Linked DNA regions of Homo sapiens. The gene in region 3 interacts genetically with the main gene of each other region. Each region holds a gene or a part of one and is shown on either strand. Other genes may lie near its edges. The genes, in order: CAMK2G, CD22, STMN1, NR5A1, CYP4F12 and CIT.

Region 1 (4,787 bases), on a different chromosome or scaffold from region 3:
GCAGTGGCACCTTGGACACATTGCTGAGCCTCTGTTCCCTCCTAAGTATAGAGCTGGGCTTAAACCAGAGAATGTTGGAGTCCCCTTCCCGCTCTAATCTGATGTTCTGGCATTCTAAACATGACTGTTCTGTCTGTCTTTCCAAGTCTTTAAGTTGACACAGGTTCTGGAATAGCCGCAGGGCTTCTCCAACTCTGCCAGTCACAGCTTTAGGTACCACAGAGTATCCCAATTACAGGAGTTGAGTTGAAGACAGAACCAGTGTTGCAGGGTATGAAGCTCACCAATACCACATTCTTCTCCCTATTCCTGCTCCTTAGTTCCCATCACCAGAATGGGACACGGTAACTCCTGAAGCCAAGAACTTGATCAACCAGATGCTGACCATAAACCCAGCAAAGCGCATCACGGCTGACCAGGCTCTCAAGCACCCGTGGGTCTGTGTAAGTGTCTTTGCTAGTGGCCAAGGAGCTCAGGGGTGTCAGCCTTCTGTGTGCCCTCGGCACCACCCCCTCCTTCTTACCAGCAGAGATTCATTCTGGGCCCCAAGCAATAACTGAGCAGGCGGGCAGAGGACTGTTGAGGGCCAGGGTCAATAAATGTCACCAGGGAGACTCGGGAGGCTGATGGGGCTGGTGGGCCACTGCTCCTCTCTCCCCCACTCATGGCTGTCAGGCTGGGATTGGTTCTGTTCTTGGATGAGGGCTCAGGTTGACCCTTGTGGACTCCAGGTAGCCGGTGATAGAAAGCAGCTGGCAAAACCCAAAGTGAATTCCCAAGCTGGGGTTCATACTCAGATCTCAACTCCACTGGAGTGGTGACCAAGATCCAACAAATCAACAGAAGGGGTTTCTGAGTCATTAAAAGCATAAAAGCTGAGGCATAAAGCTTCTGCGCTAAAGTCCTAGGAGAGTCCTCTAGGCTATCAGTGTGGGTTGACGTACTCTGTTTTTATACACAATTCTTTCAAGCTGAAATATCAACTTTCAGACAAAGAAGAGGATTTGGTAGAGTTAGGCATCTTGACAACCACGAGGCATTATTTATCTGTCCATTCTGTGTTTATTAAATACCTCTTTGGTGCTGGTTACCGTCTGGGTGCTGGAGATACAAAGATGAATGAGGCATGGTCCCTGCCCCAAAAGATCATCTAGGGAGACAGGCACTCAAACAGGCAGTCATGTTACAATGTGACAAGTAGGTACAAGAATCTAATGAGAGTACAGGAGCTCCTACTGTTCCTGGTGGGTGGTGGGGTTACTGAAGGCTGCACGGAGGAGGTGACACCCCTGTGCTTGTTCTTGGCAAATAACGAGGTCCTCAGAACGTTAACCTGCAGACAGAGTTTAGCACAGTGAGAGGTTATGGGAAACTATGGTGAGTTGAAGGAATGTTGAGTTGTTTGGTTGTCGATGAGGCTGCAAATATCAGAATGCAAGAGAATGGGGCAAAAGATTCCCTGACATACAAGTTTCTGCCTCAGGAGTTTGGATTTTATTCTGAAAACATAGGGAATCATTTAAGGGTTTTAAAGAAGAATGAAATTTGCATTTAAGAACACTTTGGAAGTTGTGAGGAAATGAATTGCCAGGCATGGTGGCATGTGCCTGTAGTCTCAGCTGCTGGGGATGCTGAGGCAGGAGGATCATAAGCCCAGGAGTTTGAGGCTGCAGCGAGCTATGATTGCACCTGTGAATAGTCATTGTACTCCAGCCTGGGAAAGATGGTCAGACCCCACCTCTTTAAAAAAAAAAAAAAAAAAAGAAGGGAATTGAAAATTTTTAAAAGAAAAGGGCTGGAGACAGAGAGCTCAGGAAGCTTTTTTAATAGTTGGAATAGTCTAAGCAAGACCAGGTGAGGTCTCAGCAGAGGGTAAGGATGGGGGAATGTGCAGTGTGTTGAAATTCAAGAGATATTTGAGAGAACCTAAAGGATTTAATTCTCTCCAGTTGGATTTGGGGGGAGCAAAGAAGAGAGAGGCCAGGTTTCAAGTTGAGCGGAGAGTTGTACCCTCACTGACCCAGAAGAAAACCAGAGGAGGAGCTTGTTTGTGAGACAAGACGATGGTTTTCTCTTTTTTTTTTTTTTTTTGAGATGGAGTCTCGCTCTGTCGCCCAGGCTGGAGTGCAGTGGCGCGGTCTCACTGCAAGCTCTGCCTCCCGGGTTCATGCCATTCTCCTGCCTCAGCCTCCCGAGTAGCTGGGACTACAGGTGCCCGCCACCACGCCCGGCTAATTTTTTGTATTTTTAGTAGAGATGGGGTTTCACCGTGTTAGTCAGGATGGTTTCGATCTCCTGATCTCATGATCCACCCGCCTCGGCTTCCCAAAGTGCTGAGATTACAGGCATGAGCCACTGCGCCCGGCCAAGATGATGGTTTTCATTTTGTGCCTGCTGAGTCTGGCAACCTCCAGCCAGACACATTCAGTGGGTGGTTAGAAATATGGTCCTAGAGATTAGAAAAGAAGCTAAAAATTGGAAATCCACATTGTAGTCATTTCTGTGTAGTTGGTAGTGAGGCTGTAGAAATAGCCTCTTCCTATGCTGTAGATGGGCCTGTTCCTATGCTGGTTGAGTTCTTACGGTGAGCTTCTATTGGCTGTAGTAGAGAAGAGACGGCCACTACACACCAGCATTTAATGATAGGGAGAGTTAGGGGGCCCAGCAAAGAGCACTGAGAGTGAGACCTTCCAGAAGACCCAGAAGCTAAGAAACAGGGGGTCTCAGTAAGGGAGCGTCAGGAATCAGATGCAGAAGAGTCCCTGATTAAGTTGGGGAAGAATCCCCTGGCTCTGACCATTAGATGCCATTGTTTCATCATTTCACTGAGACAGTGGAGAGAAAGATGAAACCCTGTTTTCAGTGAGACGAAGAGGGAGTGAGGGTGAGGAGGGGCATGGGGAGCTAGGCATTGAGGTGGGAAATAAATGGTGATACTTAGATTAAGATGGGCCAGGGGAGCTTTTAATGTAAGGCTCACACCTGTAATCCCAGCACTTTGGGAGACCAAGGCAGGCGATCACTTGAGGCCACGAGTTCAAGACCAGCCTGGCCAACATAGTGAAACTCCATCTCTACTAAAAATACAAAAAATTAGCTGGGTATGTTGGTACACACCTATAATCCCAGCTACTTGGGAGGCTGAGGCATGAGAATCACTAGAACCCAGGAGGTGGAGGTTGCAGTGAGCCAAGATAATGACACTGCATTCCAGCCTGGGTGACAGAGGGAGACTCTGCCTCTAAAGAAGAAAAAATTTCTTTTTAAAGATTATATTGGTCAGGAGCGGTGGCTCACACCTGTAGTCCCAGCACTTTGGGAGACCAGGGTAGGTAGATCACTTGAGCCCGGAAGTTTGAGACCAGCCTGGGCAACATGGCAAAACCCCATCTCTACAAAAAAAAAAACTTTAAAAATTAGCTGGTTGTGGTAACGTGCCTTAGCTACTTGGGAGGCTGAGATGAGAGGATCACCTGAGCCTAGAGAGGTGGAGGTTGCAGTAAGCCATTATTGTGCTACTGCACTCCAGCCTGGGCAACAGAGTGAGATGCTGTTTCAAAAAAAAAAAAAAATTTTTTTGTTTAAGGAGAGGCTTAACTATAATCTATAGAGAAGAATCTAGTCCAGAGGAAAGAGTTGAAGATCCTTGCTAATTGAGGAAGCAAAGGTTTGGACAGCAGAAAAAGAGAGGGGGCTCCTGAGCCAAGGGCAGGGGGTCCATCCCGGGGATGACCATGATCCCCCTGAGACTTCTATTAGTGTGGAGGCAGGTGAAGATCGGCTTGTGAGTGGAAGTCTGAGCTGAAAGGGGTTCTTGCTGATGACCTCTCATTTTGCTTTTGGAGAAATTTACACCGAGGAGGAGGTAAAATGAGAGACTTGGGGAAGGTAGAGAAGGTGGGGAGAGTTGCCTCCGGACCTGGAAAGAGTGGGCCAAGGGTGAGGGAAAGGATGCGAGGAGGCCCCGTAGTGTTGGTGGGCACCTGGCTGCAGGTGCCAGGATTTGTTTTTCTGACAGGCTGGTGAAGACAGCAACAGCAAGGGGAGAGGGCAAGCAACCTGAAACAGGCACCCAAGAATGGGGGAAATATTCTGTTCTGGGGTCATTTTTGCAGGCCCTACCCTCTGCAGTCCCGTGTGTCTCGAGCCCCTGAGGACATCACTATATTCTGAAATTACATAATGATGCTGGTATTGACAGCTGAGTCATTGAGGAAGTGTAGACTGTGTCCCATGGACTCTGTTTAAGGAGGCCAGGAAGTTAGCAGTAAATACATTGAAGACAAATTTCCATCCAAAAAAGGCGGGGCACAGTGGCTCACACCTGTTATCCCAGGACTCTGGGAGGCCGAAGTGAGCAGATCACTTGAGGTCAGGAGTTCGAGACCACCAGCCTGGCCAACATGGCCAACCCTGTCTCTACTAAAAATACAAAAATTAGCTGGGTGTGGTGGGATGTGCCTGTAGTCCCAGCTACTCGGGAGGCCAAGACAGGAGAACCTGAGAGGCGGAGGCTACGGTGAGCCGAGATTGCACCACTGCACTCCAGCCTGACTGACAAAGCGAGACTCCATTGCAAAAAAAAAAAAAAATTACATCCAGAATGATGAAAAGAATTGATGCTTCAAGGTGACGATCCTTAGCTTCTGGGATCATGGCTTCATTCAGGACCTTGCTGGGGGTGTGTGGAGAGGGGCTCTTGGAAGGAAGGAATGTCCTCTGTAGAGAGCAGGAACCCTGCCGTTCTCTCGCTGCTGAGCATCTGGAACGCAGTAGGTGCTCAGTAA
Region 2 (4,787 bases), on a different chromosome or scaffold from region 3:
GGGTATATAGGCACAGACCTCTGTGTGTGAATTGTGCGTGTGAAAAATACCCCTGGAGGAGATGGGAAGACTGTGTGCAGTGAGATGGGAAGACTGTGTGCAGTGAGGACCTTTGGTGGGGATGAGAGTTCTCAGGGATCAAGAGTGAGCCGCGTCTGTCTTTCCACTATTTACCCTTTCATGCTTACATTTTATTTTTTTACCAGGTGCTTGTATGATCTGTTTAAAAACCACTCAAGTTTACTACTGTGGAGGCCGAGGCAGGAGTATCACTTGAGCCTAGGGGGTCGAGGCTGCAGGAGCTGAGATTGTGCCACTGCACTCCAACCTGTGCAACAGGGTGAGACCCTGTCTCAAAAAAAAAAAAAAAAAATCAGCCGGGTGCGGTGGCTCACGCCTGTAATCCCAGCACTTTGGAAGGCCGAGGCGAGCGGATCACGAGGTCAGGAGACTGAGACCACGGTGAAACCACATCTCTACTAAAAATACAAAAAATTAGCCGGGCATGGTGGCAGGCGCCTGTAGTCCCAGCTACTCGGGGAGCTGAGGCAGGAGAATGGCGTGAACCCGGGAGGCAGAGCTTGCAGTGAGCCGTGATCACGCCACTGCACTCCAGCCTGGGTGACAGATCGAGACTCCGTTTAAAAAAAAAATCATTTACGTTTTAAAAGATAAAAACAAGGAGCCTGTCAGGGCTGAGAGAGACAGAGTAGTCAGAGAGAGAGAGACAGGGACCCAGTAGGAGCTCAGGACTTCTGGAAGGTGGAGCAGCCTGAGAGGGGACCCTAGAGGGAGGCAGGAGAGACTGCAGGGGAGGTAGAAAAAGAGAGACTGGTGACGCAGGACAAGACGACTCCTCCAGCACAGCGGCAGATGGCCTGGAGCAAGGGGTGTGAATGGGAAAGGGGACAGTGAGGTGGGGAAGAAGGGGCCAGCTGGTCTGGAAGGCTTTTCGGGAAGTCACTGGAGGAGACAGGGCCAGAGAGGAGCATGAGAGGAAACAGGGAGAGGCACAGTGGCTCATGGCTCTAATCCCAGGGCTTTGGGAAGCTGAGGCAGAAGGGTCACTTGAGGTCAGGAGTTTGAAACCAGCCTGGTCAACATAGTAAGACCCCATCTCTACAAAAATGTAAAAATTAGCCGGATGTGGTGGTGCATGTCTATAGTCCCAGCTACTCAGGAGGCTGAGGCGAAAGGATTGCTTGAGCCCAGGAATTGGAGGCTGCAGTGAGGTGTCATTATGCGACTGCACTCCAGCCTGGGTGACAGAGTAAGACCTTGTCTCTATAAGAAGAAGAAGAAGGAAGGAGAAGGAGAAGAAAGAGGAGGAGGAGAGGGAGAAAGCAGAAGAAGAAGAAGAAGGAGGAAGAGGAGGAGGAGGGGAAGAAGAGGAGGAGGAAAAGAAAGAGAGAAAGAAAGGAAGGAAGGAAGGAAGGAAGGAAGGAAGGAAGGAAGGAAGGAAGGACTGACCACCACCAAGAAGAACAAGAGCAGGAAGAGGCCTTACAGTAGACGGTGAGGGTGCTGAGAGGCGAACGGCCCTTGCCCACACTGTTGGTCCCCTGGCACCAGTAGGCACCCGAGTGCTGGACCTTCACCGGCTCCAATCTCAGCTTCTGGCTGTGGTAGGGGAGGCTTTGGTTATTCCAGTCAAACCAGGTGTAGTGGGAGACGGGAGGGTTGGCGTCGCTCTCACAGGTCAGGGTTGCACTCTTCCCCTCCATCACTTGGTCCCCCGGGCTCATGGACACACGCAGCCTCCTGGGTGCATCTGCATGGCGGGCAGGGGGAGGGGGTGCGAAGTCACTACCAGGCAGGCCACTGGTCCCTTCTCTGCTCCACTCCCAGCCTCCGGCCCTCACTCACACAGCACTTCAAGTGTCCAGGCCTTGGACGCTGTCTGTCCTATGGAGTTGTTCACCCAGCAGCTGTAACTCCCAGCATCTTCTGGGGAGATGGAGTCAAAATTCAGCTGGCTTTCTTTCCCCAGAAGCCTGCCATTTTTCTCCCAGAAGAACTGGACTTCTTTGGGGTGGCTGCTTGAGAAGTCACATTGGAGGCTGACCGAGTTTCCAGAGTGAATCTCGGAAAGGGGCTTGATTTTCCGGACCCTCACGTCTCGGGGGGCATCTGGAGGGCAAGGGTCCCAAGCTGACCTCTCCGCTCCCTGTCCCTTTTGCTGTCCCCAGGCCTCCCCTCCCCTTGGCCCTGACGCCAGGCTCCTGTCCCTCAATTCTGTTGAAGACACTGGCCCAGGCTCCGGCCTCGTTGCCTTCATCCCCTCATCCCAGCCGGGCCACCTCCCAGATCCCCCTGCCTAGCCCAGGGACTCACACTGGACATTCAGGGCGACAGGGGAGGCCCACGAGCACCAACTATTACAAGCTGCGCAGGCGATGGTTGTGTTGTCCCAGCCAACGTTTTGGATCTTCAGCACCCCAAGCGATGGCTCCTCCCAGGCGCCATGGGGTTTCCATTCATACCGGGTAACACTGGGGTTACTGGAATTGTAGTTACAGGAAAGGGTCACTGTGTCTCCTTCTCGAATCGGCATGGGGTTTTGAATCACTGTGGTCACCTTCTTGGGAGGATCTGGAAGAAAACCAGAGAGGTGAGTAAAGAAAAGCCAGCTGTCCACAGTACCCCTTCCCTCCTGCTTCCTCTTCTCCCGCTACCTGTCCCGGGCATCTGCACAGGTCCTAAATTAATCAAAGGGGGGCTTGTGCGTCCTTCCTGCATCTGTGTGAGAACAGAAACCCTGCCCTGGCTCTCTGGCCTGGCTGTGGTTTGGTGCAGGGGTTCAGGGCACAGCGCTGAAGCCAGACGGCTGCTGAGAGGCGCACGGGCATGGGCTGCAGGTCTCAGTTTACACGTCTGTCAAATGGGGTCCTGAGGCCGGGCATGGTGGCTCACGCTTGTAATTTCAGCACTTTGGGAGGCTGAGGTGGGCAGATCACCTGAGGTCAGGAGTTCGAGACCTGGCCAACACAGCAAAACCCTGTCTCTACTAAAAATTTTAAAAATTAGCTATGCATGCTGGTGCATGTCTGTAGTCCCAGCTACTCAGGTGGTCGAGGCAAGAGAATCGCTTGAACCCGGGAGGTGGAGGTTGCAGTGAGCCGAGATCAAGCCACTGCACTCCAGCCTGGGCAACAGAGGGAGACTCCATCTTAAAAACAAGAGGCAGTGCGGGGTGGGTGGGGGGTGAGTCCTGAGAGTTCCTAACCTCCTGGGAATTGTTTCAAGAAGGAAATGAGATGACTCCCTTAGAGCAGAGTGTGGCGTGTGGCAAACACTCCACAAACATCACTGTGGCTGCTGTGGTCACGCATCCAGCTGTCTGAGATGCTCAGGATTTGGGCACCCCTGTCCTGTTAGCACATATGACATCTCAGGGTCCAAGGATCGAGCTTATGTGTTCTTTTTGTCCTGTGCTCTACATGGTAACAAGATTCACTGTGTTAAAAGGGTCTTACAATGGAGAGGTAATGAGACAGTTTGCCCCAGTTCTCATTAAAAATTTCAAGATCTCTCAAGACTCAGCCACTGCCTAGGGACGCTAAGTCTCTGTGTCCCTCATGGAGTCCTGGTATCTTGCAGTTAATTATTCTTTTTTTTTGGAGACAGAATCTCACTCTACCCAGGCTAGAGTGCAGTGACATGATCTCAGCTCATTGCAACCTCTGCCTCCTGGGTTCAAGCGATTCTCCTGCCTCAGCCTCCCAGGTAGGTGGATTTCAGGTGCCTGCCACCATGCCCGGCTAATTTTTTGTATTTTTAGTAGAGACAGGGTTTCGCCATGTTGGCCAGGCTGGTCTCGAACTCCTGACCTCAGGTGATCTGCCCACCTTGGCCTCCCAAAGTGCTGGGATTACAGGCGTAAGCCACCATGCCTGGCCAATCCATTCTTTTTTTTGAGACAAGGTCTCACTCAGTCACCCAGGCTGGAGTGCAGCGGCATGATCACAGGCTCACTGCAGCCTCTACTTCCAGGCTCAGGTGATCCTCCCACCTCAGCCTCCTGGGTAGCTGAGACTACAGGCATGCATGACCATGCCAGGCTAATTTTTTTTTGTAGAGATGGGGTTTTACCATGTTGCCCAGGCTGGGCTTGAACTCGTGGCCTCAAGTGAGCTGCCTACCTTGGCCTCCCAAAGTGCTGGGATTACAAGTGTGAGCCACTGTGCCCAGCTCACACCTATAATCCCAGTCCCAGCATTTTCTTTTTCTTTTTGAGACCCAGGTCTTGCTCTGTCACCCAGGCTAGAGTGCAGTAGCAGGAACATAGTTCAGTCTGCAGCCTTCACTTCCTGGGCTCAAGTGATTCTCCCTCCTCAGCCTCCCCAGTAGCTGGGACCACAGGCACGCACCACCATGCTCAGCTAATTTTTGTATTTTTTTGTAGAGATGGTATCTCGCTGTGTGGCCCAGGCTGGTTTCAAACTCCTGGGTTCAAGAGACCCTCCTGCCTCAGCCTCCTAAAGAGCTGGGATTGCAGGCGGGAGCCACCGCACCTGGCCTCATTCATTCAACAAGCATCTACAGGCCGGGTGCGGTGGCTCACGCCTCTAATCCCAGCACTTTGGGAGGCCGAGGCGGGTGGATCACGAGGTCAGGAGATCGAGACCATCCTGGCTAACACGGTGAAACCCCGTCTCTACTAAAAGTACAAATAATTAGCCGGGCGTGGTGGCGGGCGCCTGTCATCCCAGCTACTCAGGAGGCTGAGACAGGAGAATGGCATGAACCCGGGAAGGTGGAGCTTGCAGTGAGCCGAGATTGTGCCA
Region 3 (5,091 bases):
TGGAAATTAGAAACAGTTTCAGGAATGTTAAGTCGTTTTTCTGCAGTCATACAACTAGTAAGTGTTGGGGTCAGAATTCAAGCCCTGGTCTATCTTAAACCAAAGCTCATGCTTCTCTCATGCTTCCTCTTTGAAAAGATTTGTTGCCAGATGATTCTTTGGCACTTTGGTTTTGTTTTTTGAGAGCTGTACAATAACATTTTAAATTGCTAGTGTGATTGTGTTGCTCAGCTGGTATCATGGTAGCTTTTCTCTTATCTAAACAATTCTATTATAAAGTAACTATCTTTAAAAGCTAATCAGAAGAATCAATAAATATTAATATGCTAGTTGTAGAAAATTTGGGAAATACAGAAATTTATAAATGGAAATTAAAAGTATTCATTATCCCGCTTCCGAGAAGCAACCAGTGTTAACATTTTGGTGTGTTTCTTTCCATTCAATGTTACTCATTAACAACTGTACATAACTTTTCATTTAACTCCCTTTCTCAACAACCCTGATAGGATTGATTTTAAAGCTGGGGCAAGTGAGGCACAAAAGGTAAGGTAATAACCTTCCCCAGACCAGCATAGTGATTTGTAGTATACACACACACCCGCCCGAAGAGCCTCAGTGCTTACACTAAGGAGTCGTCTTCTATGCAATAGTGTGAGTTCATGGAGTAGGAGGAAGCAATACAACCAAAGGTTGGACAGTGGAAAGCTTTTTAGACATCAACCCTGGCCCTGTAGTCATTAGCCTGTGCTTTACATAGTAACTGGCTAAATATAATGAAACTCCCATCATGACTAGGATTTGGCAGAAGAGAATCAATAGAACCAGTGTCAGATGCTCTGTGGTTATCCTGCAAGTCAGTGGTTCCAATGTGTTTTGAGAACAAGCTGTTCTGTTGAAGGGGTCATACCAAGGTATGGTCTGGTAATTAATGCAGTTTCCTGAGACAAAAGCTAATAAGCCTTTTCCTTGAAACAAATTTTTCTGTCTTAAATAGTAATCTACAGACTTAGTCTTGAATTTCCTATCATTGTTTTATCAGTTATGGTTAAAATTTTTACAATGAGCTAGTTTTCTTTGGGTAGCTTTTGAAGTTAAATAGTGAAATTCTTTACAATAAAAGTGCCACTCGCAAGTACATATTCCTCAAGTCATCCAGATACCATTAAGCAGTAAATCTTACAAGGATTTCCTTAAGGACTAATTGGGTAAGATTTCTGAACAGATAAGCACTTTTCCAAAGTTAAATACAAATACTAGAAAAAGAATATCATTTTCACAGTATTTTATGATAGGGATAATTCAGGTCCTAATTTTGGTGTTATTTAAAGGGACCTTATTTTCTGCCCCTTTTCAATCCCCTTAGTAAATTATTTTTATTGTAATTTTAACTTATGCTGAATACATTTTATTTTTTGAGGCAGAGTCTCTGTCACCCAGGGTGGAGTGCAGTGGCACGATCTCAGTTCACTGCAACCTCCACCTCCCGGGTTCAAGCAATTCTTCTGCCTCAGCCTCCCAAGTAACTTAGACTACAGGCACCCGCCACCACGCCCGGCTAATTTTTGTATTTTTAGTATAGGTAGGATTTCACCATGTTGGCCAGGCTGGTCTTGAACTCCTGACCTCAAATGATCCACCCACCTTGGCCTCCCAAAGTGCTGGGATTACAGGCGTGAGCCACCACACCCAGCCTGAATACATTTTAGAGTGCCTAGCCTATTAAACTTTTTTTTCCAGTCCCATGAAGCTGAGGTCTTGAAGCAGCTGGCTGAGAAACGAGAGCACGAGAAAGAAGTGCTTCAGAAGGCAATAGAAGAGAACAACAACTTCAGTAAAATGGCAGAAGAGAAACTGACCCACAAAATGGAAGCTAATAAAGAGAACCGAGAGGCACAAATGGCTGCCAAACTGGAACGTTTGCGAGAGAAGGTTGGTTTCTTACTTTGTAAAAGGGTTGAGCTTGGAGTTTGATGCACCAATGAGTTGGCTTGAACTAAGTGCTTTGATAAAAGGTGTTTGGTGTCTTTTTGTCATCCATTTTGGGGCTTAACATATTAAATGAAAGGTATATTTTAAGATGGAATATTCAGTAATTCCCAGCATAATTGCACAGTCCTTGGAAGTCCAGTAGGCAGCTTGTTAGGTTCTACAAGGGACCCAGGAGATTTGATGATGATGTCTCAGAACTTAAATTGTGTGGTTCCCACAGGCTGTAATATATGCACTGAGGTTGTGTTGGGCCTCTTTGAGGTGGGGGCTGGGGGTCGTGACTTGACAGGCTTTTTTTTTTTTTTTTTTTTTTGACTGATGACACCTTACCCTTCCTTTACAGGATAAGCACATTGAAGAAGTGCGGAAGAACAAAGAATCCAAAGACCCTGCTGACGAGACTGAAGCTGACTAATTTGTTCTGAGAACTGACTTTCTCCCCATCCCCTTCCTAAATATCCAAAGACTGTACTGGCCAGTGTCATTTTATTTTTTCCCTCCTGACAAATATTTTAGAAGCTAATGTAGGACTGTATAGGTAGATCCAGATCCAGACTGTAAGATGTTGTTTTAGGGGCTAAAGGGGAGAAACTGAAAGTGTTTTACTCTTTTTCTAAAGTGTTGGTCTTTCTAATGTAGCTATTTTTCTTGTTGCATCTTTTCTACTTCAGTACACTTGGTGTACTGGGTTAATGGCTAGTACTGTATTGGCTCTGTGAAAACATATTTGTGAAAAGAGTATGTAGTGGCTTCTTTTGAACTGTTAGATGCTGAATATCTGTTCACTTTTCAATCCCAATTCTGTCCCAATCTTACCAGATGCTACTGGACTTGAATGGTTAATAAAACTGCACAGTGCTGTTGGTGGCAGTGACTTCTTTTGAGTTAGGTTAATAAATCAAGCCATAGAGCCCCTCCTGGTTGATACTTGTTCCAGATGGGGCCTTTGGGGCTGGTAGAAATACCCAACGCACAAATGACCGCACGTTCTCTGCCCCGTTTCTTGCCCCAGTGTGGTTTGCATTGTCTCCTTCCACAATGACTGCTTTGTTTGGATGCCTCAGCCCAGGTCAGCTGTTACTTTCTTTCAGATGTTTATTTGCAAACAACCATTTTTTGTTCTGTGTCCCTTTTAAAAGGCAGATTAAAAGCACAAGCGTGTTTCTAGAGAACAGTTGAGAGAGAATCTCAAGATTCTACTTGGTGGTTTGCTTGCTCTACGTTACAGGTGGGGCATGTCCTCATCCTTTCCTGCCATAAAAGCTATGACACGAGAATCAGAATATTAATAAAACTTTATGTACTGCTGTAGCAACTCCTGTGAAATGACTAAAGGGAACCTTAATTATTTCTAAAGTAGCATTTGACTCGGGTGGTTAAGGTTGGCAGATACGTCATCTTGTATCCAGAGGCTGTAATAGTCCCCATTGTCAGTGCTTTGCCTCTCAATTCAGGGAACGCCTTTGGCAGCTTTCCTGTGCTATTTGAGAAATAGCCTAATTATACATATTTTGTGCCTCTCAGACATCTGTATAAAAGCTCTTGGAAGCCAAGCACTTATAGCAAAAGATGATTGCTAATACTGCGGTGGGGTCCATGTGTTGCTAACGCATGTGCCTCTGCTGCTTGGGCTGTATCTTGAGATTGGGGTTTTACCAAACTTATTCATGAGAACAATAACAGCCTACCTCAACTTACCTCCTAAGATTGTTAGGATTAAATGGGTTTGTGGCAAGAGAGCACACTTAGAACATAGATATTTAGCATTCCGTATAAATCACGATTACTGTTTTCAACCAGAGGCTAATGAGTGATCTAAGTTTATACTCTTGAGTTGGAAATTATGCAGTTTTTATATTCCTTAAATTGACTTTTAAATTTACTTAAATGATCAATCAGAGGAATTCTGAACAAAGCTTGGTTTAAGGAGTTACGCCCATGTAGGGCAAATAGGAGCAAGTGCAAGTATAGTTGAATACAACAATAGGTTCTGAGCAATATCTAAACCAAGAGGACAGGATGAGGCTTGTGTGCAGTGGTGCAGCACAGTTCATCTTGGCTCCTGTCTCTGGCACATAGCAGGTGCTCTGGGATCTTTAAAATACCAGTTCTGAATAGATGGGAATATAAAGAGGGCCTGAGGGTAGAAACTTGGCATAATGATACGAGGTGTCCTACAAGTGGCAGTGAGCTTTTGTTCATCTAAGACATTTAGGGAGGGAAACTGGCCTCAGGAGAAAGCAAGGGAAGGATCAACAGGCCTGAAAGGATGCCTCATCAGTTACCACCCATCCCATGGTGGCCCTGACTTCCTATCAGAGGGCGATCCTGAGCCCCTGCCTTGTGACAGGCTTAAGTCACAGGAAACTGAAGGGGATGCATCTTACCACAGAAATAGAAGCTCTGGCTTTTCTATTTCACCTTGACCTTTGGAGAAGCACTTAGTCCTGGGCCCCCATTTTCTCCTGGATAAAATGAGATGGTTGGGGGAGATCAGTTAAGTAACTTTCACTCCCCCATTCTTTGCATCTGGCTTGGAGTGAAGAGGAGGAGCGGTGGCACCTACGAGCTTCTGGGGAAGTGTCTCTGGGTATGCATTCCCGGGCCCGGCATTCTCTGCCATCACGGGAGTCTGCGTCTGTCCCAGTGGGGCCAGCCTCTCCCAGCAGTACTTCCAATAGATTGGCCTAATAAGGCCAGAGTGGTTTGACAAGCAGTTGGGGCTGTCACCAAGGAGCAGACTCCATTCCTTTTGTCTTGAATGGAAAATGAGGCTTGTCCCTTCCTGAGGATTTTGTACTTGGGCCTTATGGTTGACTGGGCTCAGTGGAGAGAGGTTTGAAGGACGTGAAGGAGGCCCTTAAATTAACATTTGACAAGCACCTAGATTGTGCTCCACACTGGCCTTTGCGCTAGGGATGGAGAAAAGATGGGGTGGGACCAGCATATCACGTGCCCATGTGAGGGGAAGGAGAGCTGTAGAATGCTTACTTACCTGAGGGTGAGGCTCTCGACCACATACTTGTACTCACCAGGGTGCTTTAGTGCTTTGGTGAAAGGAGTGACCACAGAGGGCTTTGTGGTCTGGGAAGCTTTGAGAGG
Region 4 (5,537 bases), on a different chromosome or scaffold from region 3:
CGGCGGGCTCCGGGAAGCCGAGCCCGAGGCGAGGGAGCGACCTCGGGCGGAGAGGCGAAGTCCGGAGGAGGGAAGCGCGAAGAGCCAGGGCCCGGGACGCGAGAGGGGGCGCGACGGCGGCTGCGGTCGGCCCGGCGCCCACCTGGTCGCTCCTGCGAGCAGCGCCCCGCGTCCCGCCCGCGCGGAGCCCGCACCTCTCGGCCGCGCCGCCGCCGCCGGCGAGGAGCCGCACCCGGGCGCAGCGCCGCCCGCCCGCGATGACGGCCGCTCGGGCCGGGGACGGGGAGGCGGGGGCGCGGGGCTGGCGGCGCGGGGGCCTCGGCTCCCCCCTCCCGCCTCCCCGCCCCCCATCCTGCCTCCCTGTTCCCCCCCGCACCGCCGCCGGGGCCGCTCCGAGGCGCACCTGGGACCCGGGCCCCTCAGCCGCCACCCCGCCCTGCGCCAACCCGCCGCGCCGGGGCCGGGGGCCGGCCCCTCTATATCGGCGCGTGCGGTATCCGGGGGCGGAGGCCCGGTCGTGTCCTCCCCCCAAGCCCGGCCCGCGCCGGCACCCTCTCCGCAGTCCAGCTCGAGTCTTCGCCCTCATCCTCCAGGCCCCCCAGCCGCAGCCCGGCTCCCCGGACCCCGAGCGCGGCCAGAGAGCTGCGGAGCCCGAGTGCCCCGCGATCTGGGCAGGTATAGGGCAGTGGGGGCCTTGGGTCACCCGCCTGCAGTGGGAGGAGGCAGCTCCTGTCTGTGAACCCAGCTGGGTCGTGGCGAATGCCACGCGGGTGGCTGGTCGCACTACAGCGTGGAAGTGGGTAAGGGCGAGTGGCGACCGTGGCCGAGGCTCGGATTCACGGGTGGAAGCCAGATTCTCCCATGGGGCCCACCACATCTCCTCACTCGAGCCTGTAGCAGCTCTCTCCCCGTCTCGGGTCTTCAGTTGCCGCATCTGTGAAGTGGGTAGATGACCGCTCTTCCTCGCTAAGGGTGGGTCGTGAGGATGAACCCAAGCAGTAGGGGCAAAGCACGCGTGTGGCCTGGCGGAAGCGCTCAGTGGCGCCCCTCTGGGGAGATCTGGGGCGAACCCCTTCTGCTCGCTAGCCTCAGGTCGCTGGGCTGGAAATGGGACTCGTGGAAATCCCATTTTACAAATGTCCGAGGCCTGGGGGGACCCGAAGCCTCTACGGGCGCAGGAGCTGGGAGAGGAGCCCGGAGGCAGGGCCCCGCTGCTCCCCTCGGAGCTCTCACGGGGGGGTGGGGCGAGGAAGAAAGCGCTGGGCGGTCTTGGGGACAAAGGGGTTCCCGGGCCTATGGGCCAAGCAGTTGCTCTGGGCTAGGGACCATCCGCGGGGCCACTGTTTTTCAGCTGGAGAAACGGACCCGAAAGGAAGGGGCCTGCTTGCATCCTGCCTCCGCCCCCGCTGGCACCTGGGGTCAGAGAGAGTTTGGGGACCATGAGGCCAAAAAGCTGCGATCTTCAAGCAGGAAAATACCGCAATTTTGCATTGACAGCGGCGCAACCCACCAAAAGGCTCCATCTGGGCTCCCGCCCGCCTGGAGGCCTCGGGCTTCGGTTGGAGCTGGGCCTGGGGCCTGCAAGTTGTGGCCAGAGAACCCCCCGCGCAGACCGCACTCAGCTGGCTCACCCACAGAAGGAGCAGAACCCGCAGACTAGCTGTGCAAGCTCGGGCAAGTCACTTCTCCTCTCTGAAACGAGAGCCTCAGTTTTCTCCGAGCATAAAGTGGAACATGTTGGCTTTACAGATGGGGTACTGCGGTTTCCATGCAAGAATCTTGGATGAGGAGGGAAGAAAGAGCCAGAGACCCTGTTAATCGTACCCCCCGCACCCCCAAACCCCTGAGAAACAAGAGCATCTGCCCGAGCTGGAGGTGGGGGTCACTGCCGCCTCTGAACAGCTCCCCACCACAATGGAGCCCTCAGACAGTGACTGCAGGAGGGAAGGGGGTTGGTGGATGATGGGCTGGGGTGCCCCAGTTGGCTGTTCTAAGGTAGAGCTCACCCGAGGTCTCCTGGAAACCTGGAGCTGGACACACAGGCCCCAGCCGCCGGGGTTGGGTGGGGGCTGGGCTCAGGCCCTTCTCCCTCTATCTCCAATCCCCTCTCCCCAAGGGTTTCTACTCTCACCGGCTGGAAGCCCATGGCTCCTCTGCACTCCAGGCTCCGAGGCACCCACCCCCACAGGTTCCAGGTTCCAGCCCACCGCCTGGGGAGTTCCAGCCCCTCATCCACCCACCCAGGGAGGGAAGCCTAGACCTGGCCCGGCCGCAGAACCCAGGCTGACAGATGGATGCCGGAGACAGACACACGGATACACAGCAAGACTCAGAGAGAGCCACAGAGACAACACAGAAACTCAGGTGGGGGACAGAGCCCCAAGACAGGCCCAGAGCCCTCCAGACACACTCACAGACCTCTAGGCTCAGACCCACACAGCCTGGTGGATGCCTGGCCAGAGACAGCGGGACACCAGCGGACCTCCATGGGGCTTGTGGTCACAGGCCTGGCTCCTCCCATCGGCAGCCCAGGGAAGAAGAGGGGGTAGCATGGTGGGAGGGTGAGTCTGGGAGACCCCTGGCACCTTCCCTGCCCAGAGCAGGGGGCACCGGTCACTAAGTGGAGCAGGCAGTGGCCGGCCCAGGCTGCAGGGAGGCACTGCAGAAGGAGGCTGGCCATTAGAGGCCTGGGCCAAGGCCCTCACTTACGAAGCGGAAGCAGCGCTCTCACACCGGATGAGGGTGGCAGTGGGCACCAGGGGTCCAGGGGGAGGCTCCGGCAGCCCAGGTGGGACGGTGGCGACTGTGGGTGCGCAGAAACCCCCTCACACCACGGCGGGCGGCAGCCGGACAGCAGGCTGGCCCTGTCCGTCCGTCCTCCTCCTCCTCCCCGCCCTGGTGGGGGGGCCACCGGAGGCCCAATTGGTCTCTGCCCCCACGTGACTCTGCAGGCCTCTCGCCTTCTTTGTTGGTGTTTCTCTTCATTTACGTCTATTTTTTCTTCTTCTCCTAAAAGAAAAAAAATACCCCTATCTATCTGGGGGCTGAGGGTGGGGGCGGAGGCCAAGGCACTGCAGAGGCCTTGGCCAGCTGGCTGTTCCAGGCCCGCTGTGGGAGCCCAGAGGCAGGGACCCCACAGAGGCGGGTAGGCAGCCCCGCTTGTTAGAAACCGGGTGGGAGTGGGGCTTGATTTATGGGCTGCTCCCCCACCCGGCCTGCCGCCTGCTCCTCTCTCCTTGTGAATGGCTACCTCCCTGGGGCCTGGCCTGGCATGGTCTGGCCCAGCCCGGACATTGGAGTAGAGTCAGGACAGGCCAGTGCGGAGGCAAGGCCATGGCGACTTGACTAGGCGGCCTGCTGCTTCCACCTCTTTTTCCTCTTCCATCAGGTGGAAGAAGAGGGGGGCCGGAAGGGGAGCAGGTGAGCGGCCTGGACACCTGGTGCGTGCATGCCACGGTGGCCTCTGAATGTCCTCATCTGCTGTGGGCTGCTGATGTTCCCAGTCGATGGCTGGAAAAACTGAGGCTGGGCTGAGACTGCCTCTGAGGCCAAGTGGTGGCTATAGTGGCCCCAGGTTGAACCAAGTATGAAGCTAGTCCAGGATAGGACAGGGTAGCAGGAAGGGGCCCTTATCTAGAAGGCTAGGCCTCCCTAGACAACCTGGGACGTCCCCATCCAATCTCTGGGCCCAGATGGGCTCTGAAATATCCTGTTCCTGTAGGGCCCGGGTTGCAGGGTGTTGTGCCGCTCCCACGGTGACTGGATCTTTTGTGTGTTCCTCTGTTTGTCTCACATTTACTGAGCGCACACTTAGGGGTCAGGCACTGTTCCAGGCACCAGGGATCCCATAGGAAAGAGAAGAAAAGTCTCTGTCCTCAGAGGATTTACCTCCGTGCCTTTCATCTTGGGAGAGCAGGGAGGGGCACAGGGTGACTATGGGGCAGTCACTGTTGAGAACCACCCCTCCTCCCACATATCCCTTCATTGGAGGAAATAAATAAATCACACCCAACACCTCACTTATCTGGAACAAGAGGGACTTTTCTGGATAAGTGAAGTGAAGCCAACTCTCCCTATATATATTTTTTCATGGAAGGCCACTGAAAAAGTAGAAACGCCAACTATATTTAAAACCTATGTGTTTTCCAGCCAGTCACTGTGGCTCATGCCTGTAATCCCAGCACTTTGGGAGGCCAAGGTGGGCGGATCACCTGAGGTCAAGAAGTTCAAGACAAGCCTGGCCAACATGGCAAAACGCCATCTCTACTAAAAAATAGAAAAATTCACCTGGTGTGGTGGCTTGTGCCTGTAGTCCCAGCTACTTGGGAAGCTGAGGCAGGAGGATCGCTTGAACCTGGGAGGCAGAGGTTGCAGTGAGCCAAGATTGTGCTACTGCAGTCCAGCCTGGGCGACAGAGTGAGACTCCGTCTCAAATAAAATAAAATAAAATAAAATAAAATAAAATAAAATAAAATAAAACCTAGTGTGTGTTTTCCTCATTATGCCACTTAAAATTGTGTGTGAACATACAACAATAATACTGATAGACTGTAGTCCCGGCTACTCGGGAGGCTGAGGCAGGAGGATGGTTTGAACCCAGGAGTTGGAGCTGCAGTGAGCTATGATTGTGCCACTGCACTCTAGCCCGGGCAATAGGGTTTTAATAATTAATAATCATTAATTCAATAATAATAATTTTTATAATATAATTTCACCAACAGTCATAGCTAACTGATCGAATATATTCCACCTACAACGTAACAGACAACTTATTCCTCAATGTGCATGACCTTGTAATTATGTCTTTTTCACCTAGAGAAGTTCTTACAAGATATACTTCTCTTGCATATGGCTGAACCTAACTAGTCTCCCTATTTTAATATTCTTTTTTTAGTGTCCCTATTTTGTTTTATGTCTTTTGAGACAGGGTCTTGCTCTGTTACTCAGACTGGAGTGCAGTGGTACCATCATAGCTCACTGTAGCCTCGACCTCCTGGGCTCAAGCAATCCTCCTCCCTCAGTCTCCTGAATAGCTGAGACTACAGGCACATGCCACCACACCTGGCTAAGTTTTGTATTTTCTTTTGTAGAGATGGGGTTTCGCCATGCTGCCCAGGCTAGTCTTGAACTCCTGGGCTCAAGAAATCGGCCGCCTCGGCCTCCCAAAGTGCTGAGATTACAGGCGTAAGCCACAGCACCTGGCCTTAGTGTCCCTATTTTTTTTTTTTTTTTTTTTTTTTGAGATGGAGTCTCACTTTGTTGCCCAGGCTGGAGTGCAGTGGCACAATTTCAGCTCACTGCAACCTCCGCCTCCTGGGTTCAAGCAATTCTCCTGTCTCAGCCTCCCAAGTAGCTGGGATTACAGGCACCCGCCACCGCACCCGGCTAATTTTTGTATTTTTAGTAGAGACAGGGTTTCATCATTTTGGCCGCACTGGTCTCAAACTCCTGACCTCAGGTGATCCACCCACCTCAGCCTCCCCAAGTGCTGGGATTACAGGTGTGAGCCACCGCACCTAGCCTAGTGTCCCTATTTT
Region 5 (4,787 bases), on a different chromosome or scaffold from region 3:
AGCGAACTAAAAGTAAATCTACCATTCCATCCAGCAATCTCACTACTAGGTATCCACCCAAAGGAAAAGTGATTATATGAAAAAGACACATGCACATGCATGCTTATAGTAGCACAATTCACAATTGTAAAGGTACGGAACCAACCTAACTGCCCATTGACCAATGAGTGGATAAAGAAAATGTGGCATATATACACAATGGAATACTACTCAGTCATAAAAAGGAATGAAATAATGTCTTTTGCCGCAACTTGGATGGAGCTGGAGGCCATTATTCTAAGTGAAGTAACTCAAGAATAGAAAACCAAATACCATATATTTTCACCTATAAGTGGGAGCTAAGCTGTGAGGACACAAATACATACAGAGTGATATAATGAGCTTTGGAGACTCGGAGAGCAAGGTTGGGAGCCGGGTAAGGGAGAAAAGACTGCATATTGGGGACAGTATACACTGCATGGGTGATGGGTGCACTAAAACCTCAGAATTCACCACTATAGAAATCATCCATGTAACCAAACCACTTATATCCCAAATGCTATTGAAATAAAAGGAAGTAAAGAAGAGACAGATCTGCACATTAACAATATATCTTTGGGAGCTTTTCTTTTTCTAAAAATATGAGTTTTGGAAAATTAGTTCGTTTTTATTTTTAATTGGCAAATTTTAATTATATATGTTTATGGGGTGCAATGTGATATTATGATATATGTATACAACGTGGAATGATTAAGTCAATTTAATAAACATACCCGTCATCTCATATACTCATCATTTTTGTGGTGAGAATATTTGAAATTTGCTCTCTTAGCAATTTTGAGAAATTTATTATTATTAACTGTAGTCACCATGCATGCAATAGATCTCAAAACTTATTCCTTCTAACGGAAACTTGTACCCTTTGACCAATGTCTTTCCATTCTTTCTTCCTCCCTTCTCTGGTAACCACCATTCTCTTCTTGGTTTCTATGATTTCTGTGTTAATTATTTCAGATCTCACAGTTAATTAAGGTTATGTGCTGTTTGTCTCTTTGTGCCTGGCTCATTTCACTTAGCATAATGTCCTTTAGGTTCTTGCAGATTGCCACAAATGAAAGAATTTTCTTCTGTTTTAAGGCTGACTAGCATTCCATTTTGTATATATACACCACACGGAAAATGAGTTTTGAATTACAAAAGCAATGATGAGAACAGTTTCTTCTTGCACTCAATGAGGCATCACAGATAGACAAGGGTTATTCTTGACATTCCTGCTATCCCACCTAATATCCTCCCTTTCTCCAAGGGGGCCTGTAGAGATACTTATTTGTCATCTATCTGTCTGTCTGTTTACATCTATCTACATATCTTTCTATCATCGATCTCTTCTTATATTCCTTATATTTTTTGTCCTATGGTATTTACATATATGGACATTTGGGAACATGTTTTTTTCCACTCAATACTGTGTCTGACAGATATTTTTTCTGAGTGCTGAATAGCATTCCATGTTTTATTTGGCCCATCCCTTTGTTGAAGACACTTGCGTAAACATTTCCAATCATTGGAGGTATGGCCAATTTGCATTCCAGAGTCTCTGTACTGATTTAGCTTCTGGTCTGCATTGTGTGACAGGACTAGTGATCCTTTTTTTCTCCTTTTGTGTAGCTGTATACTATTCCATTGTGTGGATGTTTATCTAAACATCTCCCCATCCATGTATATTTGGCTTGTTTCATCCTTTTGCTAAATTAAACTTGTGCAATCGGCATGTGTGTACAGTGAGCATTGCTCATATGTATAAACATCACTGCAGGACAAATTCCCAAAAGTGCAATTGTTGAACCAAAGACCATTTGCATTCTACAGTTGTAATAATGATTGCAAATCCATCTCTATATTAGGTGAGTTTGATGGCACTAGCTTTCCCACAAATTTGCCAATAGTATTATTGTATTATTAAATTTAAATTTTTTGTCCATCTTCATATTTCATCTTTTAATGAGCATTTTCTTAAATAAGAGTGAGAAAGAACATCCTTTGCCCAAGTTGATAAGCCATTTATTTTCTTTCTATGGGAGTGGTCATCTGATATTTTCTGCTGTTTTTCTTTGGGTTCTTTTTTCTTATTTACTTATAAGAATGTGTATCACAATTAATGTTTTTTTTTTCTGTTTTTTTGTTGCAAAAGATTGCCTTTTGACTTTTTTGGGGGGTGCTTTTGGTTAATTTTTATGAAGTTACATTTGTTCGTATTTTCTTTTGTACCACACTACCCAGCTATTTCCCAGAGTTTTGTGGGGCTTCCTTTGGCAGATGGGAAGTTTCCACTTATTCACATGCCCGTCTCTGACCTTTTTAGTCTTTTGAATGCATCCGTTTTTATGGCATTGCCAGACTATTTTTTCTTACTGTGACTTTTCTTTTCTTTTTTCTTTTTTTGAGATGGAGTCTAGCTTTGTCGCCCAGGCTGGAGTGCAGTGGTGCGATCTCAGCTTACTGAAACCTCCTGCCTCTCTGGTTCAAGCTATTCTCCTGCCTCAGCCTCCCGAGTAACTGGGACTACAGGCACCCTCCACCACGCCTGGCTAATTCTTGTTTTAGGTAGAGATGAGGTTTCACCACATTGGTCAGGCTGGTCTCAAACTCTTGACCTCAAGTGATCCACCCACCTCGGCCTCCCAATACTCTGACTTTCTAATGGGTTTTAATATCTGGCAGAGTGGCTTTTTTTGTTGTTAAATCAACCCCTGCAAACATTTATTGTGTGATAAAGTGTATGTTTTATTTGGATTGAGGGAAATTTATAATGAAATACAGAGATTTCATGTTTCTTTTTAAGTTTAATCCAGGTATTTTATATTATTATGACTAGTATCTTTTCTTTTATTATCTTTTCATTTGATGGTTATTTCTATATGGTAAAACTAATGATTTATGCATATAAATTCTATGCCCAGTGAACATAGTATATGCTAAAGATGGTATCTGTATCAAGAGAAAAAATATAGATAATTAAGTAAAAGCTCTTGGGGCAACTGGAAAGCCTTCTGGAAAAAAGGCAACTGAACCTTGTTCTCATATCTTATGACAAGATAATGTTCAGATTAATCATTTTTTTCTAAAAGAGTCCTAAAAGCTCTAGAAGGAACCATGAGAAAATTATTTCATAGCGCCAGAGTAGGGATAACCTTATTTTGACGTAAGTCCCAGGGGCTATGAAAAAGTGATAAACTGTTAAATGAGAGAAAAGATACACGCCAGCCACGGTGGTTCATGACTGTAATCCCAGTACTTTGTGAGGCCAAGGTGGGCAGATCACTTGAGATCAGGAGTTCAAGACCAGCCTTGCCAAATTGGGGAAACTCCATCTCTACTAAAAATAAAAAAAAAAATTAGCTGGCTGTTGTGGTGAATGCCTGTAGTCCCAGCTACTTGGGAGGCTGAGGCAGTAGAATCACTTGAACCAGGGAGGTGGAGGTTGCAGTGAGACAAGATTGTGTCACTGCACTCCAGCCTGAGCAACAGAGACTCCATTCCCTCCCCCCATCAAAAAAGATACAGAATAGTGTCTACAGTAGATGGTGTGCTCCTATATAATTTTTTAAGATGCTTAAAATCAGCCCAGAAAGCATACATTAAAAAAAATAATAACCTGGCAACGTGTGGGGAGAAGTAAATGGCATTGGGCCATAGGAGTGAATTATGTTTTATAGTTTTCAAATTCTGAACCAGATAATTGTAGACGGTATGAAAATTTTAAATAGCCACTGCAAAAGAAGAAAGATTAAGCAGAGAATTCAGCTCCTTTGCTTGATCTTAAATGTTTATAAACGTTTTCCAGTGGGGCCTCTAGTGTTTTCTAAGTATAAAATCACTATCTGCCAAAATGATACATTTACTACCACATTTCAAATTGCCTGACTCTCGTGTTTTTTTGGCTGCATAAATGTCTTCTTTTGAGAAGTGTCTGTTCATGTCCTTCGCCCACTTTTTGATGGAGTTGTTTTTTTCTTGTAAATTTGTTTGACTTCATTGTAGATTCTGGATATTAGCCCTCTGTCAGATGAGTAGGTTGCGAAAATTTTCTCCCATTTTGTACGTTGCCTGTTCACTCTGATGGTAGTTTCTTTTGCTGTGCAGAAGCTCTTTAGTTTAATTAGATCCCATTTGTCAATTTTGGCTTTTGTTGCCATTGCTTTTGGTGTTTTAGACATGAAGTCCTTGCCCATGTCTATGTCTTGAATGGTAATGCCTCGGTTTTCTTCTAGGGTTTTTATGGTTTTAGGTCTAACGTTTAAGTCTTTATTCCATCTTGAATTAATTTTTGTATAAGGTGTAAGGAAGGGATCTAGTTTCAGCTTTCTACATATGGCTAGCCAGTTTTCCCAGCACCATTTATTAAACAGGGAATCCTTTCCCCATTGCTTGTTTTTCTCAGGTTTGTCAAAGATCAGATAGTTGTAGACATGTGGCATTAACTCTGAGGGCTCTGTTCTGTTCCATTGATCTAGATCTCTGTTTTGGTACCAGTACCATGCTGTTTTGGTTACTGTAGCCTTGTAGTATAGTTTGAAGTCAAGTAGCATGATGCCTCCAGCTTTGTTCTTTTGGCTTAGGATTGACTTGGCGATGCGGGCTCCTTTTTGGTGCCATATGAACTTTAAAGTAGTTTTTTCCAATTCTGTGAAGAAAGTCATTGGTAGCTTGATGGGGATGGCATTGAATCTATAAATTATCTTGGGCAGTATGGCCATTTTCATGATATTGATTCTTCCTACCCATGAGCATGGAATGTTCTTCCCTTT
Region 6 (4,787 bases), on a different chromosome or scaffold from region 3:
ATACACACACATGCACATACACAGTTTCATCGGTCAATTGGGAGGGATAAGAAGCCATATGGATGGTGTTTCCTTCTTTCTTTACCAGCAGGTGAACTGCAGGTGGCATCAGAAGGAGAATGCCACCCAGAAAATCAGCCCCAAATGGCAGAAAGGTGGCTCCTTGACCTGCTTAGCCTGCTAAGGAGGCACCAAGCACTTGAGCCATGCCCTGCCTGGGGGAGCCCCTGGTCTTCCACACCCATCCCTCTCCTCGATCGCAAACCTAAAATTACACAGATCATTCATGCACATGATTTAAACATTTCCAAAAGTTCAAAGTTCTTCTGGAAGGCAACCACTGTGAACACTTTCTGTGTAGCCTTCCAGAAAAACAATTTATATATACACATGTGTGGGCTGAGCGTGGTGACTCACGCCTGTAATCCCAGCATTTTGGGAGGCCAAGGTGGGAGGATTGCTTGAGCCCAGGAGTTCAAGACCAGCCTGGGCAACATAGCGACATTATGTCTCTAAAAAAAATAAAAAGGGCCGGGGGTGGGGGTGGGAATCAGACAGATGGTGGCTTGAGCCTGTAGTCGCAGCTATTCAGGAGGCTGAGGCTGGAGGATCACTTGAGCCCAGAAGTTCAAGGCCGTGGTGAGCTATGATCACACCACTGCACTCCAGCCTGGGCAACATAGTAAGACCCTGTCTCTAAAACAAAACAAAACAAACAAACAAACAAACAAACAAAAAGTGGGGGAAAAAGTTAGCCAGACATGGTAGCTACAGCCCATATTCCCAGCTACTCAGGAGGCTGAAGTGAGAGGATCACTTGAGCCCAGGAGTTTGAGGCTGCCGTGAGCTATAATCACGCCACTGCACTCCAGCCTGGGGTAACAGAGCAAGACGCTGTCTCTCAAAAGAAAAAAAAAAAAAGAAAAGCATATGTGTGTATGTGTGTGAATCTATATCTATGTTTGAAAAAAGCATGCAACATTTCATATAGGATGCTATCATTTGGGTTTCAAAAGGAGAGCACACATATATATTTGCTGGTACGCACAGAATATCTCTAGAAACTGCTACCACTTGCCTCTGGAGAAGGGAAAACATTTTTTGGTAGCTATTATATTTTGAGTTACATGCATACATATTTTCCTTTTCAATTACACACACGTTATCCATTTGCTTAGGAAGCTCTTTTTTTTTTTTTTTTTTTTTTTTTTTTTAAGACAGAGTCTCGCTCTGTCACCCAGGCTGGAGTGCAGTGGCGCGATCTCGGCTCACTGCAAGCTCCGCCCTCCGGGTTCACGCCATTCTCCCGCCTCAGCCTCCCAAGTAGCTGGGACTACAGGCACCAGCCACCACACCCGGCTAATTTTTTGTATTTTTTTCGTAGAGACGGGGTTTCACCACATTAGCCAGGATGGTCTCGATTTCCTGACCTCGTGATCCACCCGCCTCGGCCTCCCAAAGTGCTGGGATTGCAGGCGTGAGCCACCACGCCCGGCCAGGAAGCTATTTCTTAAGGTACATTTTCTTCCTAAATTCCTGTGTCTCGCAAAGTCTGAATTACAGTCATGGAGTTCCTTTTTTAAACAACAGTGGCCCCGTGGGGGCCTCAGTTCCCCAAGTCACTCCTGGCCTCCGCAACAGACACACAGGCCTCGGAATGCTGCCTCACCTTGTTCACCTGGGACAGCGGGGTCCTCACGGCTCCCGCAGGCAGCCGGCCCCTGCTGCTGTCTTCAAACAGCCTCCCGGGGGACCGCTCTCTCCGCGTGCTGAGCATCCGGCCGGGGGACTTCTCTCGCTCCAGGGGGCGGCCAGGAGACTTGTCCCTGCGCAGCTCGGTCCGCCCCTCGCGGTAGCGGTGGGGTGTGCTTGGCTCTCGCGGGTGGCTGGGGCCTTCGGGCGGCGCTGGGCTGGAGGCCACGCGCTTGGTGATGTGCTCGTTGTACGTGGGTGGGCCTCGCTTGTTGGGGCTGCTGGCGACACAAGAGGAACGTAGGGAGCTGCGAGGCCACAACCCCAGAGGGGCATTTTCCTTCTTACCTGAGCAACCCCCTCCTTGACCCAGCCTCACCACTGATTATCAAGAGATTAGACCTGGAGTTCTTTGGACTTTGCCTGCATTTGATTTTGGTAGCAAAGACAGGGAAGAGAGCAAAGATGGCAACAAAAGACAACCCACCTTCCTCAGTGCAGGCTTTCATTTACTGAGCACCTACTGTGTGCCAGGCCTGTGCTAAGTTCTTCATCTGCCATCTCTCATTATCTCATTAAATCATCACAGCAGCTCCTGAGCTATGAACAAGCATGACCCTCACTGTACAGGCAAGAAAATGGGGACAGACAGGAGTTAGGTGACTTGCCTGAGCTAATGAGTGGTAGAGCTGGGATTCCAATAAAGACCAGTTTGATAGGCCAGGCGCAGTGGCGCACACCTGTAATCCCAGCACTTTGGGAGGCCGAGGCAGGTAGATCACGAGGTCAGGAGATCGAGGCCAGCCTGGCCAACATGGTGAAACCCCGTCTCTACTAAAAATACAAAAATTAGCCGGGCGTGTTGGCGTGTGCCTGTAGTCCCAGCTACTCAGGAGGCTGAGGCAGGAGAATTGCTTGAACTGGGGAGGCGGAGGTTGCAGTGAGCCAAGATCGGACCACTGCACTCCAGCCTAAGTGACAGAGCAAGACTCCGTCTCAAAAAAAAAAAAAAAAAAAAAAGACCAGTTTGATGTCATAAGCCCCATATAATATCCTACTGACCTACTATTTCCCAGAGCCTAGAAGGCACAGAAGGAAGTCATCAACTAGGAGGTCAGCCTACTAAGACCCAGAAGTCAGGGACCCACAAAGGCCCTCAGTGCAAGGAAGCAGTTTGGAGAAACCCTGTACTGATCACTGTTAACTGCCATGTCTGTCCCACTCCTGGGCCTCGTGTTTGGTCACCTCTGCCCCCATGTGGCTTTCCAAGAGTCTCTGACACCTGATGCAAATGCAGATGCTCAGAAGGTGGATGGTTCTCAGTCATGACAATAAGACGACCGAGAGGTGTAGGGATCAGGCCTGATAGAGTCAGGAAACTGAGCAGGGCAGACAAAGTAAAGCGGGCTCAGAAAACGTCCCAGGCCTCAAAGGTTGATAATTAGTAACCAAGCAGTTGAAAACACTGCGGCCTTTTTGTACAACCCAACCCAATCCTCCACCCACTCCTGGCCTGGATATTTCAAATGAAGATTTCAGCAGACCCAGGGGCCAAACTCCCTCTCTGAAGATGTAGTAAGACCTACAAACACAGAGAGAACTGAAATGTGGCCTTCTGAGTCAATTCTTTCCCACCCTTGATCAGCTCTAAAAGTACTAGGGTCCCTATTATCTCAGCATAATTTGTGCTTGGAAAAGGCCCTACTTAAAATGGAGGAAAAAAATTACAGTGAATATTACTTGAAAACATATTTTGTTTGATTGAGGCTTTATCTTGGAATATAAACTTATTTTATGCTAGATATTTTTAGTATTTAAATTACAATGCAATTACATGCTGATTCCAAAAATGAACCAAGCATGAATCACAGAATGATTTGTTTTGTGCTAATTGTCTCAACAAAATTGCTGCTAACATGCTCTGACACCAACGTTGGACACATTGGACTTTTGCAGTGGATCCTAAAGAAGGCTCTTCAAAAATATTTGAAAAAGCCGGGCACAGTGATGCATGCCTGTAGTCCTAGCTATTAGGAAGGCTAAGGAAGGAGAATTGCTTGAGCCCAGGAGTTCAAGACCAGCCCGGGCAATATGGCAAGACCCCGCTTCTAAAAAACTAAAACTAAAAATTAAAACAAGAAAAGTGTTTTCCCAAAGGACTATCTTAATCCTTGATATTTAAATCCTTCTCATTGGAAGAGGCTATAATTTTATCAACTTGTTCATTTCTTTCTTCAATTATTGGTCTAACTGTATCAGAACCTCTTCTGTCAACGTCCATAATTGAGAAGCGACAGCAAAGACAGTGTTTATTGTGGAAGGAGAGACTCTAGAACAGGCTTGAGGGCCAAATCCGGAAGATGCTTGTTTTTATAAATACAGTTTTATTGGAATGAAGCCATGCCCATCTGGTTATGCATTGTCTTACAGCTGCTTCCGCATGACCACAACAGGGTTGAGCAGCTGAGACAGAGACCATATGGCTCACAAAGCCGAAAATATTTACCATCTAAACCTGTGCAGAAAAAGTTTGCCAATTCCTCCTCTACAATATAACAGAGAAGTTGGTGTGCAGAGATAATTTCATAAGGGCTCAGTTCATAGTGAATAGTTTCATGCCATGCTCTTGCTTTCCCATGCAACTGTAACGTTTGGAGATTCAGACAACGAATGCTCAGAAGGCCAGAACCCCTGTCTCTGCAGCAGTAAGATTTAAGATAACTCAGATTTCAACATCTTGAAATCAAGGTTTATATTCATCTCTAGCCATATGGCTTTGAAATCTGGAAGACAAACAAAAAAATAAATTCCGAGTAGGAGAACTACATTAAGCCTACTTGTAATGGAAAAGAAATGATAAGATGTGTCCACAAGAAACTATCATAAAACAAATGAGAGGGTGCTCACTGGCCAGGGGAAGAAGGATTGCTCAAGGGAAGGCCATTCAGGACGTCAGCTGAGATTAACGGGAGGAAGGAACACACCCGTCATTCCAAGCCAAGTGGGCAGTCTTCCATCTCCTTATCCATTAATGACCCATAATCTACCACATCAATTTTATGGTTTTTTGGCAAGGAGTTACGTTTCCTGCTCTG

The links.
Region 1: changes in STMN1 (region 3) and CAMK2G together harm fitness more than expected from each alone (negative genetic interaction), as found in Homo sapiens cells (one large-scale study listed by BioGRID).
Region 2: changes in STMN1 (region 3) and CD22 together harm fitness more than expected from each alone (negative genetic interaction), as found in Homo sapiens cells (one large-scale study listed by BioGRID).
Region 4: changes in STMN1 (region 3) and NR5A1 together harm fitness more than expected from each alone (negative genetic interaction), as found in Homo sapiens cells (one large-scale study listed by BioGRID).
Region 5: changes in STMN1 (region 3) and CYP4F12 together harm fitness more than expected from each alone (negative genetic interaction), as found in Homo sapiens cells (one large-scale study listed by BioGRID).
Region 6: changes in STMN1 (region 3) and CIT together harm fitness more than expected from each alone (negative genetic interaction), as found in Homo sapiens cells (one large-scale study listed by BioGRID).

What each region holds. Positions count from the first base shown.
Region 1 is NC_000010.11:73,842,881-73,847,667, reverse strand, and holds part of CAMK2G (calcium/calmodulin-dependent protein kinase type II subunit gamma), read left to right. Parts: exon of another isoform or gene 1-320; coding exon 321-443; intron 444-4,787.
Region 2 is NC_000019.10:35,338,686-35,343,472, reverse strand, and holds part of CD22 (B-cell receptor CD22 isoform 1 precursor), read right to left. Parts: intron 2,593-4,787; coding exon 2,335-2,592; intron 2,131-2,334; coding exon 1,867-2,130; intron 1,772-1,866; coding exon 1,508-1,771; intron 1-1,507. UniProt on the Homo sapiens protein: Most highly expressed siglec (sialic acid-binding immunoglobulin-like lectin) on B-cells that plays a role in various aspects of B-cell biology including differentiation, antigen presentation, and trafficking to bone marrow.
Region 3 is NC_000001.11:25,898,329-25,903,419, reverse strand, and holds the end of STMN1 (stathmin), read left to right. Parts: intron 1-1,737; coding exon 1,738-1,929; intron 1,930-2,332; coding exon 2,333-2,404; 3' UTR 2,405-3,304; downstream 3,305-5,091. UniProt on the Homo sapiens protein: Involved in the regulation of the microtubule (MT) filament system by destabilizing microtubules. Prevents assembly and promotes disassembly of microtubules. Phosphorylation at Ser-16 may be required for axon formation during neurogenesis.
Region 4 is NC_000009.12:124,504,540-124,510,076, forward strand, and holds the start of NR5A1 (steroidogenic factor 1), read right to left. Parts: upstream 2,861-5,537; 5' UTR 2,710-2,860; intron 1-2,709. UniProt on the Homo sapiens protein: Transcriptional activator. Essential for sexual differentiation and formation of the primary steroidogenic tissues. Binds to the Ad4 site found in the promoter region of steroidogenic P450 genes such as CYP11A, CYP11B and CYP21B.
Region 5 is NC_000019.10:15,689,555-15,694,341, forward strand, and holds part of CYP4F12 (cytochrome P450 4F12), read left to right. Parts: intron 1-4,787. UniProt on the Homo sapiens protein: A cytochrome P450 monooxygenase involved in the metabolism of endogenous polyunsaturated fatty acids (PUFAs).
Region 6 is NC_000012.12:119,688,482-119,693,268, forward strand, and holds part of CIT (citron Rho-interacting kinase), read right to left. Parts: intron 1,974-4,787; coding exon 1,670-1,973; intron 1-1,669. UniProt on the Homo sapiens protein: Plays a role in cytokinesis. Required for KIF14 localization to the central spindle and midbody. Putative RHO/RAC effector that binds to the GTP-bound forms of RHO and RAC1. It probably binds p21 with a tighter specificity in vivo.